Linked DNA regions of Homo sapiens. The protein of the gene in region 5 purifies or fractionates together with the protein of the main gene of each other region. This does not show direct contact. Each region holds a gene or a part of one and is shown on either strand. Other genes may lie near its edges.

The links.
Region 1: the proteins of THAP4 (region 5) and CPNE7 purify together in Homo sapiens (affinity purification with mass spectrometry; one large-scale study listed by BioGRID and IntAct). This does not show direct contact.
Region 2: the proteins of THAP4 (region 5) and CORO2A purify together in Homo sapiens (affinity purification with mass spectrometry; 2 studies listed by BioGRID and IntAct, with this or other methods). This does not show direct contact.
Region 3: the proteins of THAP4 (region 5) and AIFM1 purify together in Homo sapiens (affinity purification with mass spectrometry; one large-scale study listed by BioGRID and IntAct). This does not show direct contact.
Region 4: the proteins of THAP4 (region 5) and SERPINB7 purify together in Homo sapiens (affinity purification with mass spectrometry; one large-scale study listed by BioGRID and IntAct). This does not show direct contact.

The regions. Positions count from the first base shown.
Region 1 is NC_000016.10:89,589,249-89,592,766, forward strand, and holds part of CPNE7 (copine-7), read left to right. Parts: intron 1-648; coding exon 649-703; intron 704-1,758; coding exon 1,759-1,810; intron 1,811-1,878; coding exon 1,879-2,012; intron 2,013-2,949; coding exon of another isoform or gene 2,950-2,952; exon of another isoform or gene 2,953-3,518. UniProt on the Homo sapiens protein: Calcium-dependent phospholipid-binding protein that may play a role in calcium-mediated intracellular processes.
Region 2 is NC_000009.12:98,126,638-98,130,155, forward strand, and holds part of CORO2A (coronin-2A), read right to left. Parts: intron 3,254-3,518; coding exon 3,157-3,253; intron 2,083-3,156; coding exon 1,970-2,082; intron 1,624-1,969; coding exon 1,533-1,623; intron 187-1,532; coding exon 1-186.
Region 3 is NC_000023.11:130,134,825-130,138,342, forward strand, and holds part of AIFM1 (apoptosis-inducing factor 1, mitochondrial isoform AIF precursor), read right to left. Parts: intron 3,217-3,518; exon of another isoform or gene 2,702-3,216; coding exon of another isoform or gene 2,694-2,701; exon of another isoform or gene 2,362-2,693; coding exon 2,254-2,361; intron 1,908-2,253; coding exon 1,819-1,907; intron 1,362-1,818; coding exon 1,221-1,361; intron 1-1,220. UniProt on the Homo sapiens protein: Functions both as NADH oxidoreductase and as regulator of apoptosis.
Region 4 is NC_000018.10:63,778,402-63,781,919, reverse strand, and holds part of SERPINB7 (serpin B7), read right to left. Parts: intron 1-3,518. UniProt on the Homo sapiens protein: Might function as an inhibitor of Lys-specific proteases. Might influence the maturation of megakaryocytes via its action as a serpin.
Region 5 is NC_000002.12:241,588,641-241,592,158, forward strand, and holds part of THAP4 (peroxynitrite isomerase THAP4), read right to left. Parts: intron 1-3,518. UniProt on the Homo sapiens protein: Heme-binding protein able to scavenge peroxynitrite and to protect free L-tyrosine against peroxynitrite-mediated nitration, by acting as a peroxynitrite isomerase that converts peroxynitrite to nitrate.

The DNA.
Region 1 (3,518 bases), on a different chromosome or scaffold from region 5:
ACCTTTGTACTCAAGCCTGGGTGACAGAGCAAGACTCCGTCTCAAAAAAAAGAGACTCTGCGAGGAAGGGCTGGGTAGCCCTACTGGAGGCTGCCGCATAGACTCTGCACATGGTCCTGGGGGGACGTCTGTGTCCCGCTTTGCCAGAATAGCAAACCGAAGTCACAGAGGCTTGGGGCTCACCCGCGTATGCTTTACCAGGGAGGGCCCGGCACAAAACCCTGTGCTCTGAGCTTCTTACCACAACACAGACCCCTGGCCTGGGGCTTGGGAGAGGATGCCCTGAGCTCCCTACCCTACAGACCTCTCTTTCTGGGTTGGTGAGGGCCACAGTGGGTTCCTTGGCCCCACAGGACCCCTCCCGTGGTCTGAGAGCCCCCGGGGAGGCGTCTGCAGGGGGACAGCATGTACACAAACGTGGAGTTGGGAGGCAGGCTCGCGGGCGGCAGGACCGTGTCCCCTTGCACACAGGCCTGTGCCTCTGCTGCCCTGAGCCTCGGTTCCCCACCTCTGGCAGGTGCTTACTGCCGTGGTACCAGGCCTGGGCACCCCCAGTCTTTTGGGCGCCAGTCATGTCTCCCTAGAAGTGGCCCCTGTTGCAGCCACAAGAGGTCAGGGCCTCCTGGTGACCTCCTGCCTCTCTTCCAGTGACAAGAGGTTTTCCGCTTTGGGGTTTGGAGCCCGGATCCCTCCCAAGTATGAGGTAGGAGAGCCCAGAACCTGAGACCTCAGAGCTGTGCCCTTCTCGTGCCCTCCCAGGCAGAGGACGGCCTGGCCCAGGGAGCCCTGGCTGCCTGCTGGGAACCGGAGACTGTAGGATGGGATTGGGGTGCAAAGCGGGAACCCCAGCCTTCTAGCCAGAGAGGCTGGCCTTTGGCCTCCTAGGACTTGTTAGCTTGAGGGGTGTCTGGAGGCCAACTCCGTGTTCCTTCAGGAGATAGGGAAGGACGTTAGTGTGGAATCCTCTATTGCACATAACAATTCAGCTAGCTTCGGCCAGGCGTGGTGGCTCACGCCTGTAATCCCAGCACTTTGGGAGGCCGAGGCGGGCCGATTACCTGAGGTCAGGAGTTCCAGACCAGCCTGGCCATCATGGTGAAACCCCATCTCTACCAAAAATACAAAAATTAGCTGGGCGTGGTGGCACATGCTTGTAATCCCAGCTACTCGGGAGGCTGAAGCAAGAGAATTGCTTGAACCCGGGAGGCAGAGGTTGCACTGAGCTGAGATCGCACCACTGCAGTCCAGCCTGGCCTGTAGAGCAAGACTCTGTTTTAAAAAAGAAAAAAGAAAACAACAAAAAACTTCAACTGGCTTCAGCAGAAAAAATGGTGTGTGGGGATTTATTGGCTAATGTAAGCCTCAGGCACTGCTGGATCCAGGGAGGTCTGCCTCCCTCTCTGTTTCATGACTCTGCAGAACATGGTCACCCATGGGTTTGGCTTCCCCTAGAAACTCCAAGCCTACCTCTCTCAGTAGGTGGGGGACATGGGGGCCAGGTCGGGGGAGCAGCTGACTGGGGGACATGGGGGCCGGGGACGGGGGGAGCAGCTGACTGGGGGACATGGGGGCCGGGGACGGGGGGAGCAGCTGACCGAGCCCTCTTTAGTAGGCGGGGGACATGAGGGCGGGGACGGGGGGAGCAGCTGACTGGGGGACATGGGGGCTGGGGACGGGGGGAGCAGCTGACCGAGGGACATGGGGCCAGTGGGGTGTGTTGCAACGAGCAGCTGACTGAGCCCTCTTGTTCCCACCCAGGTGTCCCATGACTTTGCCATCAATTTCAACCCTGAGGACGATGAGTGTGAAGGTAGGAGCTCGAGGCAGGCCTGGGGAGGGGAGTGCAGGGGGGCCGGGCTCACCCCCTGCCCCCCACAGGCATCCAGGGCGTGGTGGAGGCCTACCAGAACTGCCTGCCCAGGGTCCAGCTCTACGGCCCCACCAACGTGGCGCCCATCATCTCCAAGGTGGCACGCGTGGCGGCGGCCGAGGAGAGCACCGGGAAAGCCTCTGTAGGTGCCCGGGGGGTGTGGTGCATGCTTGGTGTGGGGTCGGCTGTGTGTGCACCAGCGCGTGGACGTCAGGGAGGCACCTGGCAGAGGGAACAGCCAGCGCAGAGGCCCCCAGGCAGGACAGAGCTCAGGAGGGCGGGGGCCCAGCTGGTTGACTACGTCTCCCTCAAAGGTGCAGGTGTCTCGGGCACAGGGCTGTCCATCGCCTCACACGGTCACGGCCATGGCTGCAGCGAGGCTGCCCCTCTCCTCTTCCTCTGGGCACCACAAGGCCGCGCACATGTCTACTGTTTGGCTGTGTGTGTATCGTCATTTTGTTTACATGTGTCTTTCCTTTGCACAAATGATACGGTGCCGAGAACTGCACTGGATTCTACTCTGCCACCGTGTGGCCCTGTATGTGTCTCTGGGGCCACAGCCAGCCTGCTGCTTTCTTTTCTTTTCTTTTGTTTTTTGTGAGACAGAGTCTCACTCTGTCACCCAGGCTGGAGTGCAGTGATGTGATCCCAGCTCACTGCAACCTCTGCTTCCCGGGGTTCACGCCATTCTCCTGCCTCAGCCTCCCAAGGAGCTGGGACTACAGGCGCCCGCCACCACTTCTGGCTAATTTTTGTATTTTTAGTAGAGACGGGGTTTCACCCTGTTGGCCAAGCTGGTCTCAAACTCCTGACCTCATGATCCACCCGCCTCGGCCTCCCAAAGTGCTGGGATTACAGGCGTGAGCCACCGTGCCCGGCATTCTTTTTTTTGTTGTTTTTTTTTTTTGAGACGGAGTCTCGCTCTGTCACCCAGGCTGGAAGTGTAGTGGCGCAATCTCCGCTCACTGCAACCTCCCCCTCCCAGGTTCGCGCCATTCTCCTGCCTCAGCCTCCTAAGTAGCTGGGACTACAGGCGCCCACCATCATGCCCGGCTAATTTTTTTTTTTTGTATTTTTAGTAGAGACGGGGTTTCACCGTGTTAGCGAGGATGGTCTCGATCTCCTGACCTCGTGATCCACCCGCCTCGGCCTCCCAAAGTGCTGGGATTACAGGTGTGAGCCGCCGCGCCCGGCCCAAAATAATTTTAAACTCACCAAAAAGTTACAAGAGCTCTGAGGTCCTGCAACCCGTGAGGCCAACAGCTGCTCACACATTGCGCTCCTGCTTCACGTCTGTGTAGTTGTTGTATTTGTATGTTTTCTTTTTCAATTTTTTTTTTTTTTTTTGAGATAGAGTCCTGCTCTGTCACCCAAGCTGTAGTGGTGCAATCTCGGCTCACTGCAAGCTCCACCCTCCGAGTTCAAGCAATTCTCCTGCCTCAGCCTCCCGAGTAGCTGGGATTACAGGCTCCCGCCACCACGCCCGGCTAATTTTTTGTATTTTTAGTAGAGACGGGGTTTCACAGTCTTGGCCAGGCTGGTCTTAAACTCCTGACCTTGTGATCCACCCGCCTCGGCCTCCCAAAGTGCTGGGATTACAGGAGTGAGCCACCGCGCCCAGCCCAAATTTTTTTTATTGTGATAAAAT
Region 2 (3,518 bases), on a different chromosome or scaffold from region 5:
CCCACCTTGGCATCTTCTCCTCCAACAGGGAGGAAGACCTCCAGCCATCTTCTGCAGCCAGCTTTTCTGTCTGATTCAAGAGCCGGGGTGAGGCTGGGGCCATGGAATTGAAGATAGGTCTCTCTGCAGGCAGTGGGTGGGGTCTCAGCAGCTCAGAGCCAGGCCTAAGGGACACCAGGATTGGGTCTGGAAGGGAAGCAGAGCCATGTGAGGACGGGGTGCCCACGGGAAGATGGGCATATGGGGCACCAATGACACAGGCAGGCATGCAGAGACACTCAGAGCCATGCAGACCCATGCAACATGTGTGGGAAATACAGCTACCTGTGGACAGGCCCAAACCCACAGAGCAGGGCTAACAGATACAAATACCCACGTGTGCCACCCTCAGAGTGAAGCTTGGTTTGTAGGAACAGCACGGTGCGTGCACTGAAGCAGCCCCCAAACACTTCAAACTCACATGAGACCTTGCCCTTGCTTTGTAAGGACAGTCCCACCCACACTGCACCCCACCATCTACCAAGTTCATTAGTTCTCTCACCACCTCCAGAAAGCAGGGGAGGCTGGCATCATGGCTACAGATGAGGAAACTGAGGCCCAGGGAGCAAAACCTACTTAAGGTTATCCAAAACTAGGACTCGGCCCTGGTCCGCTGCCCCCCAAGGCAGAGGCTCTTCCAGTACACCAGGAGGCCCGCTCAGCCACTGGGGTGGGGGTGAAGGAAGTTTGTGGGGGTGGAAGGGAGAGGGAGCAGCTGGGGTGACTGCTTCTGCTGGGCTGGCCCCCGTGTTGGCAGGAGCGGGAGAGTGGCTCAGGACAGGCAGAGTGGGCAGAGGGACCTGGGTGGGGGTTGCTGCCTGGAGGGCTTCTTGGGTCAAGAAGAATTGCAAAAGGCCAGGCCCAGTGGCTCGCACCTGTAATCCCAGCACTTCGGGAGGCCGAGGCAGGTGGATCACTTGAGGTCAAGAGTTTGAGACCAGCCTGGCCAACATGGCAAAACCCCCATCTCTACTAAAAATACGAAAAATTAGCTGGGCATGGTGGCACGTGCCTGTAGTCCCAGCTACTCAGGAGGCTGAGGCATGAGAATCACTTGAACCTGGGGGTGGGGTGGAGGTTGCAGTGAGCTGAGATTGTACCACTGCACTCCAGCCTGGGCAACAAAGCGAGACTCTGTCTCAAAAAAAAAAAAAAAAAAAAAAAAAAAAGAATTGCAGAGGTAGGGGTGGGGAACAGGGACAGGGAGTCTGGCTGAGGTGGTCCAGGCACCCCACATAGCCCCAGAGTGTAAAGAAGCTTTCCGTGGGGCAAAGTCCCTTGAGTTGGAGTTTTCTGAGCTCTTGGGTCAAGCCCCCTGACTTTCTGGACCTGTATGTGACCATGCTACCCACTGGGGACTGAAGGTCAAGGGCATGGCTTCTGAGGTCATGAGAGAAGAAAAATCCAGGCCCAACCCCTCTCAATTGCTTGGGGCCACTGGGCACGCCATGTTCCTGTCACATTTGCCTGGGCCTCTTCTCTGCCTTCCTCACCTCGATTCATCCCGCTGAGCCACTCCTGGGCCGTCAGGGAGGGCTGGGCCCCTGCTGTTGGAGGGTATATGTCCTCTTGGTAGGATTCTGACTGCAGGAGAAATCCAGACAGTGAGGAGGGTGGTAGGGTAGGCTGCTCAGATGGGAAAGGCCCTTAGACCTGGGAGTCCAGGCTCTCACCAACCCCTGCTGAATTGAGGAAACTGAGGCCCAGAGAACAAAGGGACTTGCCCGAGGTCACGCAGCAGCTCAAGAACAGAGGTGGACCGAGACCCAGGACTCCTGACGCCCACTGATGTCACACTGGCTGTGAGAAAGGCCGCTCTGTGGCTGCCCCATGAACGTGGGCTCCAGGCTCTGGTGCCCGACAGCCCTGGGTCTGTCTTCTCCAGGACAGGTTCCCCACCTGCCTCCCATGCGGTCCCGACTGCCCTTACCCGCCGGGGCACAATCATGGAGATGGGCTCGATGAGGCTTTTGGTTGTGATCAGCTTGTAGAAGCGGAAGATCTCGCAGGAGGACACGTCGAGTCCTCTCTTTGGCATGACACCTGAAGGCAGACAGGGAGGGCCAAGAGGTTCTGGCTAGGCTGGGGCCACAGTGTTAGGGCCAAAGCCAGGCTGCACACCTGGACCTGAACAGAGACCAGTCTCCTCCCAGAAAACAGCTCAGGGACAAATACCGACACTGGGCTGGGCCCTATGTTGGGAAATGGAGTTGAATTAATCAGACTCTTCACCTTCAAAGATTTAAATTATTTTAGCTGAATTTTTTTCTTTTTGACACAAGGTCTCACTCTGTTGCCCAGGCTGGAGTGCAGTGGCACAATCATAGCTCACCGCAGTCTCACACTCCTGGGCTCAAGCGATCCTCCTGCCTTAGCGTCCCAAGTAGCTGGGACCACAGGTATGCACCTCAATTTTTTTATTTATTTGTAGAGACAGGAGTCTCACTTTGTTGCCCAGGCTAGGCTCGAATTCCTAGGCTCAAGTGATCCTCCAGCTTTGGCCTCCCAAAGTGCTGGATTAGCTGAACTTTTATAGGCAGTTTGCTCTGCTTAAGGTTCCCCATCTCCATCCCCACAGCTCCTGTGACCCAAATGCTCTTAATCAAACCGCTCCAGATTCCTTTTGAGTAGGGTTAGCAGGGTGCATCTTTCTCCAGTCCCTTACTTTTAATCTAGCCATGTCTTTATGTTTAAAGTGGGTTTCTTGTAGATTACAGAAATATAGCTGTGTTTTTAATCCTCAAGCACACTTAGAAAGGAACTGAGGACTGCTTCCTAGAGGCTCTTCTAGGTCAGCCCTTTCCATCTCTGCTCTTGTGGTAACTGCTTAACCTTGACCTAGAACACATCCCTCTCTCCCCTGCTGGGCTCTGCTTCCTCTTTCAGTTCCTCCAATGTTGCCTCCTCTGAGAAGCCTTCCCTGACTTCCTCCTTTGTGCTGTTGCACACGTCAAGTACAGCCCCCACCAAGTCAGAGTGTTGCTATGCTGTCTCTCCTCCCATCTGACTCATCCCTGTCTCCCCAGACCCCGCACTGAAGCCCTGACCCTGATTCTCCCACCTCGGCCTCCCGAAGTGCTGGGATTACAGGCATGAACTTCAGTGTCCCTCACTTACCGATCCCCTTCTGTGGGTTATAGGAGCGGTACTCAGTCAGGTAGCTCAGGTGAGGCTTGTCGGCGCTCACCTCGTAGTAGCGGATGTTGCCATCTCCCTGAGGAGGAGGAGAAGGAAGAGGAGGGTGAGATTCAGAGCTGGAGCTCATCAGCTCATCAGCAACCCAGCCATGCAGCAAAGACCTGGCTTTTTTTGATGATCGGCAAACCCATCTCACTCAAGGGAACACCAGGAAACTGGGGGCCCTGTCATCAAGGCAGGAGGGTGATGAGGGGATATTCATTTTATTTTAGATTTTATCTTATTTTTTTGAGACAGGGTCTCACTTTATTGCCCAGGCTGGAGAGCAGTAGTGCAATCAC
Region 3 (3,518 bases), on a different chromosome or scaffold from region 5:
TCGCTTAATGGAATATATAGTCATTAAACTGTTTACAAAGTCTGAAGCAACATAGAAAATGCTTACATTTATGGTGTTAAGTGGAAAAGAGCAGAATATTATATATAGTATGCTTGCCACGAATAAAACAAACCAACAATAAAACCTACATGCAAGGAAACACAGGGAAGGAAATACACCAAAATATTAATGGTTGCTGCAGGTGACTTTCCTCTCCTCTCTCCTTCTTGTCTGTCTTCTACATTGACCACATATTACTTTTTTTTTTTTTTTGAGACTGAGTCTTGCTCTGTTGTTGCCCAGGCTGGAGGGCAGTGGCATGATCTCCACTCACTGCAGCCTCTGCCTCCTTAGTTCAAGTGATTCTCCTGCCTCACTCAGCCTCCCAAGTAGCTGGGATTACAGGCCTGTGCCACCACACCCGGCTAATTTTTGTATTTTTAGGAGAGACAGGGTTTCACCATGTTAGCCAGGCTGGTCTCAAACTCCTGATCTCAAGTGATCCACCTGCCTCAGCCTCCCAAAGTGCTGGGATTACAGGTGTAAGCCACTTCTCCTGGCCCACGTATTACTTTTATAACAGGTTAAAAAGATCCAGTACATCTTTTTTTTTTTAAAAAAAAAAAAAAAAACAAGGTTTGGAGGGGGAAAAAAATTCCTCCAAGGTACCTACGTCCTTAGTTGCAGAGTCCATAAACAAACACAATACACTTGTAACTAGCAATGGGGAAATTACCTCATGGTTCCTACATACTATAGTCTTGTTTATGTCATAATAGATTGTAAAAAACAGCTAAAAATAGTACTCAAGGAAAATGAAAACAGAGTAATTTTCCTTTCTAGGGAACAGGTTATAACATTGCTTCATCCTCCATCCTCCGGATTCAAGTTTGAGCAAAGGGAACAGCAGATCCATCTGAAGGCTTATGTGCATGCCCACCAGGGGTTATGCCAGTAGCTGCTGCCAATAAGTAGAACCGGAAGAGCTCTACCCCTGCAGGCATGCACACTGTTCATTTCATCTGCCACTAGCTTGCAGATGAGGCCATACCTGGTCTTCTGAATCAAGCAGTTCACACATTTCTATTCTGTACCCTCAGCCTCCAAACACTCTGACCCTATTTGGTTAGGCTGTTGATGAGCTTTAGCACACCACCGGGCAGACTTGTTCACAGGCTAGGGAGAATGAATTATGCCTGGTCATGCTGTAGCACACTTACCACCCAGATGTTAGAGCGTGCTTGTAGCTCTGCATTTACCCGGAAGCCACCAAAATCTGAGTCTATTTCCAGGCCACCAGTCTTGGCCAACTCAACATTGGGCTCCAGGCCCACAGCTGCCACTATGTGGTCAGTTTCTACCTGAGGCAAAAAAGAAATAATTCAGTCAATTACCACAGTTTCCATTTATGCCTACAGGCGTAACAATGGCCCTTCATGCCATTAAGAATTGGGACTTTAAAAAATCATGGGTTAACTTACCTCTGATAAATGGATTTTAAGTTCTATTTCATAAGCCTCCACCACCCCATCCCATGCACATCCCCCATGTCATTCGAACAGAAATCTGCCACCCTAGCCAGGACTCAAAACTCTGTGAGACAGATAGAATGGGGCTAAGGGAAAGTGGTTCACAGGAGCCTACTCTGGCTCTCATCATTCTGTTTTAATGGAGGGATGGTTAATTCGGAAAATTATATCAGGTTAATGGCAACTGCCAGGAAAACTAATCTACTGGTGTCAAATGAAGGAGTAAAAATGAGGCAAGGGGAGTGGAGAACTGGAAGGCCTCTTGGCAGACTATCTTTTCCTTCCTTACCTTCCTGCCGTCTTTCAGCTTGATAAGTAACTTGCCACTGCTGACTCCAACGGATTGCACAATAGCATTGGGCATCACCTTAACCCCCTCTGTAAAGGCAAACAAGACCTGAGAGTGAGCCTACAAGGCTATCACTTTCATGGGAAGTAGGAAAGCTGACCAGCGGTCTCCTCCACGGTAAAACCAATTATCAGTACACAGGCAGTTTTGGAGAGCTGCAAGAACCTACACCCATGGTTCATTTTCAGCACTTCCAGGAATTTGGGGCATCTGATTCAGAACACCTAGATGAACTTAGCTGACTGGAGAATGGTGGAAACATTTTACAGGCCAGGTGATAGGGCTTATGTCAAGGGGGTTCCTATAGAAGCGAAGTTTGCCTTAGGTCACACTCAAAGGAAATAGAGTGGCAGCATATAGAAACAGTCTCTCTACCTCGTCTGACTTTTTCCATGGTCCAGTTGCTGAGGTATTCGGGGAGGATCTTTCCCATATTTCCTTTCTCGGGGAAGAGTTGAATCACTTCTGTGCCCAAGGCTCGAGCTGGGAAGAAGAAACAGAGTAGTTACAGCAGGAAGCAAAAGTCAATCCTAGGAATACAGGAAGAGAAGTAAAGGAGCAGCAGGCAGCCCTCACTACAGACAGGGCAGAGCTGCAATCCAGGCCGAGCGCCCACTTACAGGACAGTGGGCATGAGGGCCTCGGTGCTCAAGTTCATTTGTAACGCAAATACAACAGGTATCAGAACTGCTGGCCCCAGATTAAGCTTCAGATGGTGAACTCTGTGCACTTCCACCCATGCAGTCACCTAAGGCTTACATAAGTGCTTTGCAACCTCTGAATAGGAAGCATCCTCCTGAAAAGATGCCCTGATTTCATATATCTGAAAAAGAACATTAAGAAAACTAGTTGCCATGAAACATTCCAACTGGAGCTCACAGATCTCTCAAGCTGGGAACCATCATGTGCCCAAAGAAGTTTTTGGCATTTTACAGGAAGCAGCAGTTCAAAGACACCCATAATTCTGTAGTCTGCATTGCCCTTATCATCTTCATAACTCACTTTCCTTAATATTTTATTTCTAAGGAGTCCTGGCATAGAGGGTAGAGGAAAAGAAAGGAAAGAAAGTATTGCTGTTGGCCAGGTGCAGTGACTCACACCTATAATCCCAGCACTTTGGGTGGCCGAGGTGGGTGGATCACCTGAGGTTGGGAGTTCAAGACCAGCCTGACCAACATGGAGAAACCCTGTCTCTACCAAAAATACAAAATTAGCCAGGTGTGGTGGTGCATGCCTGTAATCCCAGCTACTCCAGAGGCTGAGACAGGAGAATCGCTTGAACCTGGGAGGCGGAGGTTGTGGTGAGCAGAGATCACACCATTGCACTCCAGCCTGGGCAACAAGAGTGAAACTCCATCTCAAAAAAAAAAAAAAAAAAGCATCGCTGTTAAGTTGCTCAGGTGACAGCTTTTTGGTCACCAAGGGATCCCTCACCAGAACTAATCTCAGTGTTTAGCTTTTCACTATATAAACCTTAATTAGGCTGGGTGTGGTGGCTCACGCCTGTAATCCCAGCACTTTGGGAGGCCAAGGTGGGCGGATCACCAGGTCAGGAGATCGAGACAGTCCTGGCTAACACGGTGAAACCCCATCTCTACTAAAAATACAAAAAATTAGCCAGGCGTGGTTACAGGCGCCTG
Region 4 (3,518 bases), on a different chromosome or scaffold from region 5:
ACCCATTCTTTCCATTAAGGCCTCTGTAAATTCTTAGAACAATCATACATTCTATTTTTTTTCAAAACTGTCCTAATTTTAAGTATTATGCATCATTGGTCCCATAAGTGCATTAATTTGTTTAAAACCATTTTCTGATTTTTTTGGAATGCAAAGTGTGATTATCAGAGTATGTATCAAGAACATGTACAAGACTTTTCAACACATAGGCCTATTTCTTCCTAGAGAACCCAGGGTGCAGTAACAAAGTGGAGATTATCTTCAAATTCATGATGTTGTTTCTGCAATACAGACGGTTGCTACCACCATGGAATTCTTCAGGGATCCACTTGGGTAATTTTTTTTGCAGAATTTCTCCTCAACTCAAATTGATCTCAAAATAGCAGTTGGGGTTGTCTCAGACTACATGAACTTACATGAATTCTCCAAATTATTCCTCATGAATGTCCAATGATATTACATCTGATGGTGTGGCAGGTGCCAGGTGTTGCAGATGCCAGGAGTCACAAACCCTTAGGGGACTTCATCCAAGTCTCAACCCTGTTGCTAATAGTTGTGTGAACTGGGTCAAGTCTTTAATTTCTCTGAACTTCTAAGTTTCATCTTGTTCAGTGAGATGATCTATGTACAGGATCTAGCATAGCGATTCTCAACAGAAAATCATGCTTCCTTGTACCTTTTGCTCCATAAGAAGAGCACACATAGGCATCTGGGGACTGGCATGTTGTGGGTGAGGAAGGGGGTCACAAGGAGGGAGAGCCATGCAGTCTGAAAGAAGAACATTCTAAAATTGCCATTGTGTTGGCTTTGTCACAGTTGCAAATACTTAAGGCCTTTTAAAATTGTAAATGAAATTAAAATAAGTTTTTTAACTTTTATTATGTCAAATGGGAGTTTGAGTTAAAAAATTAAAAAAAAACTTTTCTAGTACAATGCATGATCCAGAGTAGACGTTCAATGAGTTGAAGCTGCTGCATTTACTATTCTCTGTGAAGTGGTAATAGCCTGTTCTGTCCTAAAAGACAGCAAACATTTCCAGAAAGAATGTCCCTGAGGGACCCATACTCTGCTCTTTGGAATTCCAAGCACAGAGAACACCACTGAGGCATGACACCCTACATGATGCTGTTTTTCAGGGTCAAATTCAGCTATATAGAATTCGTTATAAGTCATACTCCTCAGTTACACCCTAGGCACATAAGGTGAGAAAATCATTCACACCCCACATATCTTTACTCTAAGAAAGAACACCTATGTTCTTTCAAAAGTTACCCAGAAAAAAATGTATGTTGATTTTATATCTAATCCAAGCAATCCCGGGTAAAAAGTTGTGGCAATTGTGATTAAAGCTACAGGAGAAACTCTTTGCAACAAAGGAGACGAGAAACAATGAAAGTTAGGACTAGGTATACAGGATGCGAGTTGGCAGGAAAAGGGCAGCTTTATACAGTGAGTGATACTAGCAGTGCTAAAGGCCCTCAAATGTTTAAGGGATTCAATTCATATTTTTGACCTAAAGATAAGTATTCCTTCTAAAATATGAAAAAATAAGATCAAAATTAACAAGTTTACAATTAAATATATGAAAATGAAATCTATGCTGATTTTTCTATTTAGTATTCATAAGAATTTCATTAATTTTAGAAGGAAATTGTGTGCTAGATTCTCTCCATCCTAAAGAATTTCCAAGGCTTCATGCTGGTTGCCGAAAATCAGACAGTAGTAAATGAAATGAATTGTTCTTGGGAAAGTAACTTCAAAAGCAAAGTCATATTAATCCTTTCAAAGTATTTACAGTGAAAAATATATTTAATAGAAGATTGGGTGTATTTTAATGTTTTCATAAAATGTGAGTTAGAGTTTTTAAAATAAGACCTGAAAGGTTTTTAAATGACCCTGTTTAGAAACCTGCTTGCACGGGCCAATGGGGGTCTGGAAGCTATCATTTCCCAAAGTGCAAAAATATACTTTAAGATACATTTTTCTTTGTTCAAGTTCCAATTCTTCTTGTTGTTTTACAAATTATGCCTTACTATTTTATCCTTTGGGGCAAAAAAAAATTATACTTTTGAATAGTATTCTTTAATTACTTTCTAAGCACCAATCACAAATTTTCATTTTCTAAAATTTCAGGCTTCCTATTTCCATGGTAAATTATTGATGAAATTATAATCTTATTGAACAAAAGAGAAGCTACACAAGAATGTATTCATTCAGGATACAGAGTACATAAATGTTTAGCTTAGGTAAGTTTTATGGCAGAGAAACCATACTAGAAAAAAAAAATCACGACAGAGAAACATGAGCCAAGACATTCCTAGATAATTATGAATTCTCAAGTCATAACTCTTAAAATGATAGGTGATACTAACTAGCATATACTTTAACATTCTTGTACAGACATGTTCATGTATGCTTAAAATAAATACCAAAAAGTATGTTCCATTTCACATAATTATTTTTATTATCTTTCTCTATGCAGGTGCACTGTTTAAGTTCCAGGAATAAAAGTAAGATTTGTTTCTCCTCTTCTGATATAAAGTCTGATTCTTATTGGCAAATAAACAATTATATTTAAGACTGAACTGATTGTTTTATACCTCCAAGTTTTCATCAGGTGACACATAAATAAAAATTAGCATGAGACCAAAACTGTGATTTTTCCTTTCCCTATAAATACTTTCAAAGCAACTTAAATAGATAAAACATTAACAAAAATAAACTAAGTTCAGGCAAGCCACCAACAGCCACCAACAGCTACCAATTGACTTGAGTCCCAGTTAAATAACTAAGGAAATTGAAAAGGAAAACAACCACATTAAAGCTACCTAAAGAAGATGTCAGTGTGACACCACCCAGTATTTCATTGTCTGGACATGGCAATGCAGGAAAGTTCTTTTCAAATCATAAAAGAACTTGGTTTTAAAGTCTGATTTTTCATTTTGCTAAAAATATACTATATTCTTATGTTTCTTGCATAAATATTTTAGCTTAACAAACAAGCATGCAATTAATTTATAATTTTAAAGTTAACACAAATTAGCACGTACTCATGGATGTTTTTACATCCCAAACTTCAGACTTGAGGGTCTAAAAGTCCATGGCAGCCTGAAGCCTATTTGATTCCTTATGGTCTATTTCAATCTGAGAACTTTTTTATCCCTTTCATCCTTTAGCTAATATATTATTAGCATCAAAACAACAATAAAAATAGATATTTTCTCACTAAACCTTCTTTTTAAAGTTTAATAAAAAGCAAAAAGTAGTTTTTAAATAAAGCATAAGAAAATTCAGGCACAAAACACATTCAATAAAACATAAAGTTATGATACTATTTTATGGACCTAAACTTATTACACCTAACTGATAAATTATGTGCCTTAAATGCTTGATAAAAGTATTATCTAGTCTTAGGATACTTTTGCCTGTATATAGAAAATTAATTATAGTTCATGACACATTATTTTTTAAAAAAGCTTTTATATTTACTGAATTAGGATATACATATAGGAAAGAAA
Region 5 (3,518 bases):
GATTTTCGACAAAAGCACTGCATACTTTAATAAATTAAGGGTTCTCTTTTCAACAAATGGTGCTGGAAACGAGGTATCTGTATGAGGAAAAATGGAAAAAACGTGACTACTACCTCATACCATCTAGAAATAGCAATTCCAAATAGCATATATCTTAAAACTATAAAACTTCTTGAAGAAAATGCAGGTGAAAATCTTTGCTGCCTGGGCTAGGTGAAAAATTTTAAGACAGGACACAAAAAGCACTGACTAGAGAAAAAAAATGGTAACAGAATTAAAACATTTGGTTCTAGACTGCGCATGGTGGCTCACGCCTGTCATCTCAGCGCTTTGGGAGACCAACGAGGGTGGATCACCTGACGTCAGGTCGAGACCGGCCTGGCCAACATGGTGAAACCCCGTCTTTACTAAAAATACAAAAAATTAGCCGGCCATGGTGGTGGGAGCCTGTAATCCGAGCTACTTGGGAGGCTGAGAGAGGATAATCGCTTGAATCTGGGAGGTAGAGGTTGCAGTGAGCTGAGATCAGGCCATTGCATTCCAGCCTGGGCAACGAGAGCAAACAATGTCTCAAAAAAAAAAAAGAAAAAGAAAAGAAACCCCCCACCCCCACCAAAAAAAACAACATTTGGTTCTTCAAATGGTACTGTCTAGGAAACAGAAAGGCAAGGCACAGGATAGGAATATCGTGTTGGCAAGTACACCTGATAAAGGACTTATACCCAGAACAAACAACAGGCTCTTACAACTCAGGAATAACACAAACACTTAAACAAATGGGCAAAAAATCTGAATGTTCATTTCACAAAACAAGAAATACAAGTGGCAAATAAGTACAACAAAAAGATGAGCAGCATCGTTACTCAGCAGGGAAGTGCAAATTAACATCACAATAAAATACCACCCTGTAGTGGCCAGGATAAAACTCAAAGGCCAACCCTTGGCGAGGCTGTGGGACAACCTTGCTGGGGTGTCAAGGGGGACAGCCACTCTGGAAGAGATTGGTGCTTACCACAGAACCCAGCAGTTCCAATCCCAGGTATGCACCCAAGAGGAAAAAAAACATGTGTCCACACAAAGTTAGGTCTACACATGCTTACAGCTTTATTCCTAATAGCCCGGAACTGGAAACAAATAAAATAAACATCCATCAACAGAAAGGATAAACAAAACTGACAAGCTCACTGGTGGACCACCACACAGCAACAAGCAGACGTGGCACATGCAGCAGAACTGCTGAATCTTGAGAGCGTTTCAGTGAGGAAAGGAGACCGGAAACAAATGAGTTGTGTGCTGTGACTCCACTGATGATAATGATGGGCACTAGGACACTCAGAGCTGCTCGGCTGACGATGATGGGCACTAGGACACTCAGAGCTGCTCGGCTGACGATGACGGGCACTAGGACACGCAGAGCTGCTCGGCTGACGATGATGGGCACTAGGACACGCAGAGCTGCTCGGCTGACGATGATGGGCACTAGGACACTCAGAGCTGCTCGGCTGATGATAATGGGCACTAGGACACTCAGCTGCCCGGCTGATGATAATGGGCACTAGGACACACAGAGCTGCTCGGCTGATGATAATGGGCACTAGGACACTCAGAGCTGCTCGGCTGATGATAATGGGCACTAGGACACTCAGAGCTGCCCGGCTGATGATGAGGGGCACTAGGACACTCAGAGCTGCCCGGCTGATGATGATGGGCACTAGGACACTCAGAACTGCCCGGCTGATGATGAGGGGCACTAGGACACTCAGAGCTGCTCGGCTGATGATAATGGGCACTAGGACACGCAGAGCTGCTCGGCTGATGATAATGGGCACTAGGACACTCAGAGCTGCTCGGCTGATGATAATGGGCACTAGGACACACAGAGCTGCTCGGCTGATGATGGGCACTAGGACACTCAGAACTGCCCGGCTGATGATGAGGGGCACTAGGACACTCAGAGCTGCTCGGCTGATGATGATGGGCACTAGGACACGCAGAGCTGCCCGGCTGACGATGATGGGCACTAGGACACTCAGAGCTGCTCGGCTGATGATGATGGGCACTAGGACACACAGAACTGCTTGGCTGATGATCATGGGCACTAGGACACTCAGAACTGCCCGGCTGATGATGAGGGGCACTAGGACACTCAGAGCTGCTCGGCTGATGATAATGGGCACTAGGACACGCAGAGCTGCCCGGCTGACGATAATGGGCACTAGGACACACAGAACTGCCCGGCTGACGATGATGGGCACTAGGACACACAGAACTGCCCGGCTGACGATGATGGGCACTAGGACACACAGAGCTGCTCGGCTGACGATGATGGGCACTAGGACACTCAGAGCTGCTCGGCTGACAATAATGGGCACTAGGACACACAGAACTGCCCGGCTGACGATGATGGGCACTAGGACACTCAGAGCTGCTCGGCTGATGATGATGGGCACTAGGACAGACAGAACTGCCAGGCTGACGATGATGGGCACTAGGACACTCAGAACTGCCCGGCTGACGATGATGGGCACTAGGACACTCAGAGCTGCTCGGCTGATGATGATGGGCACTAGGACACTCAGAACTGCTCGGCTGATGATCATGGGCACTAGGACACTCAGAGCTGCTCGGTCTACAGTGGCAGAAACCAGGCCGGGGGCTTGAGAGGGCAGCGGGGGTTGCCTGTGGAGCACGGGGACTTTCTAGGGTGCTGGGACTGTTCTCAGTCTTGACTGGCGCAGCGTTACAAGATTATATATGCTTGTCCAAATGTATCAAACTGCACACTTGAAGTGTATGCATTTATTCCATATAAAGTATACCTCAATAGAGGTGATTTTTAAAAAGTAGAAGCCATGATAATGAAGACAGTGTGGTATTGGCACAGGGACTGACAAACAGACCACCTGGAACCAGAGAGAGGGTGAGAAGCAGACCCCTGATGAAGGATACTGAGGGGCTCAGGGGGCAGTTGCATGGGTGAACAGGGGGGCCGGGCTCTTCATGCAGGGTGCAGGGTAGCTGGCCCTCATCTGAGAACAAGGAGAGGGGACAGCACTTCACACTATACACACAACTCAGCCCCAGGTGGATTAATGACCTAAAGGAAAGATTTTAGGTTGAACTGTGAAGCTTCCAGAAAAATTCAGAATACATATTTTGACCTGTTAGTGAGGAAAGACTGCTTAACTAAGACATTAAAAACAGAATCCATAAAGGAAGAGATTGGCAAACTGAACCACATAAAATCCAGAACCTCTGTTCTTCAAAAACAATTTGTAAAACTCAAAAGATAATCACAGACCGAAAAAGCTATTTGCAACACATTTAGCTAACAGAGCTTTATTCAAATCATATAAAGAACTCTGACATGTCAGCCAGAAAAGGCACAGTGGAAATGGTCACCAGACCTGAACAGGCACCTCGCTGGAGGATGACCCAGCAACGACGTGAAAAGATGCTCAAGCTCGCAGGTCACCGGTGGCAGCCCAGGCTGCAAAGCTAGGTCCAGAGCCACCCAC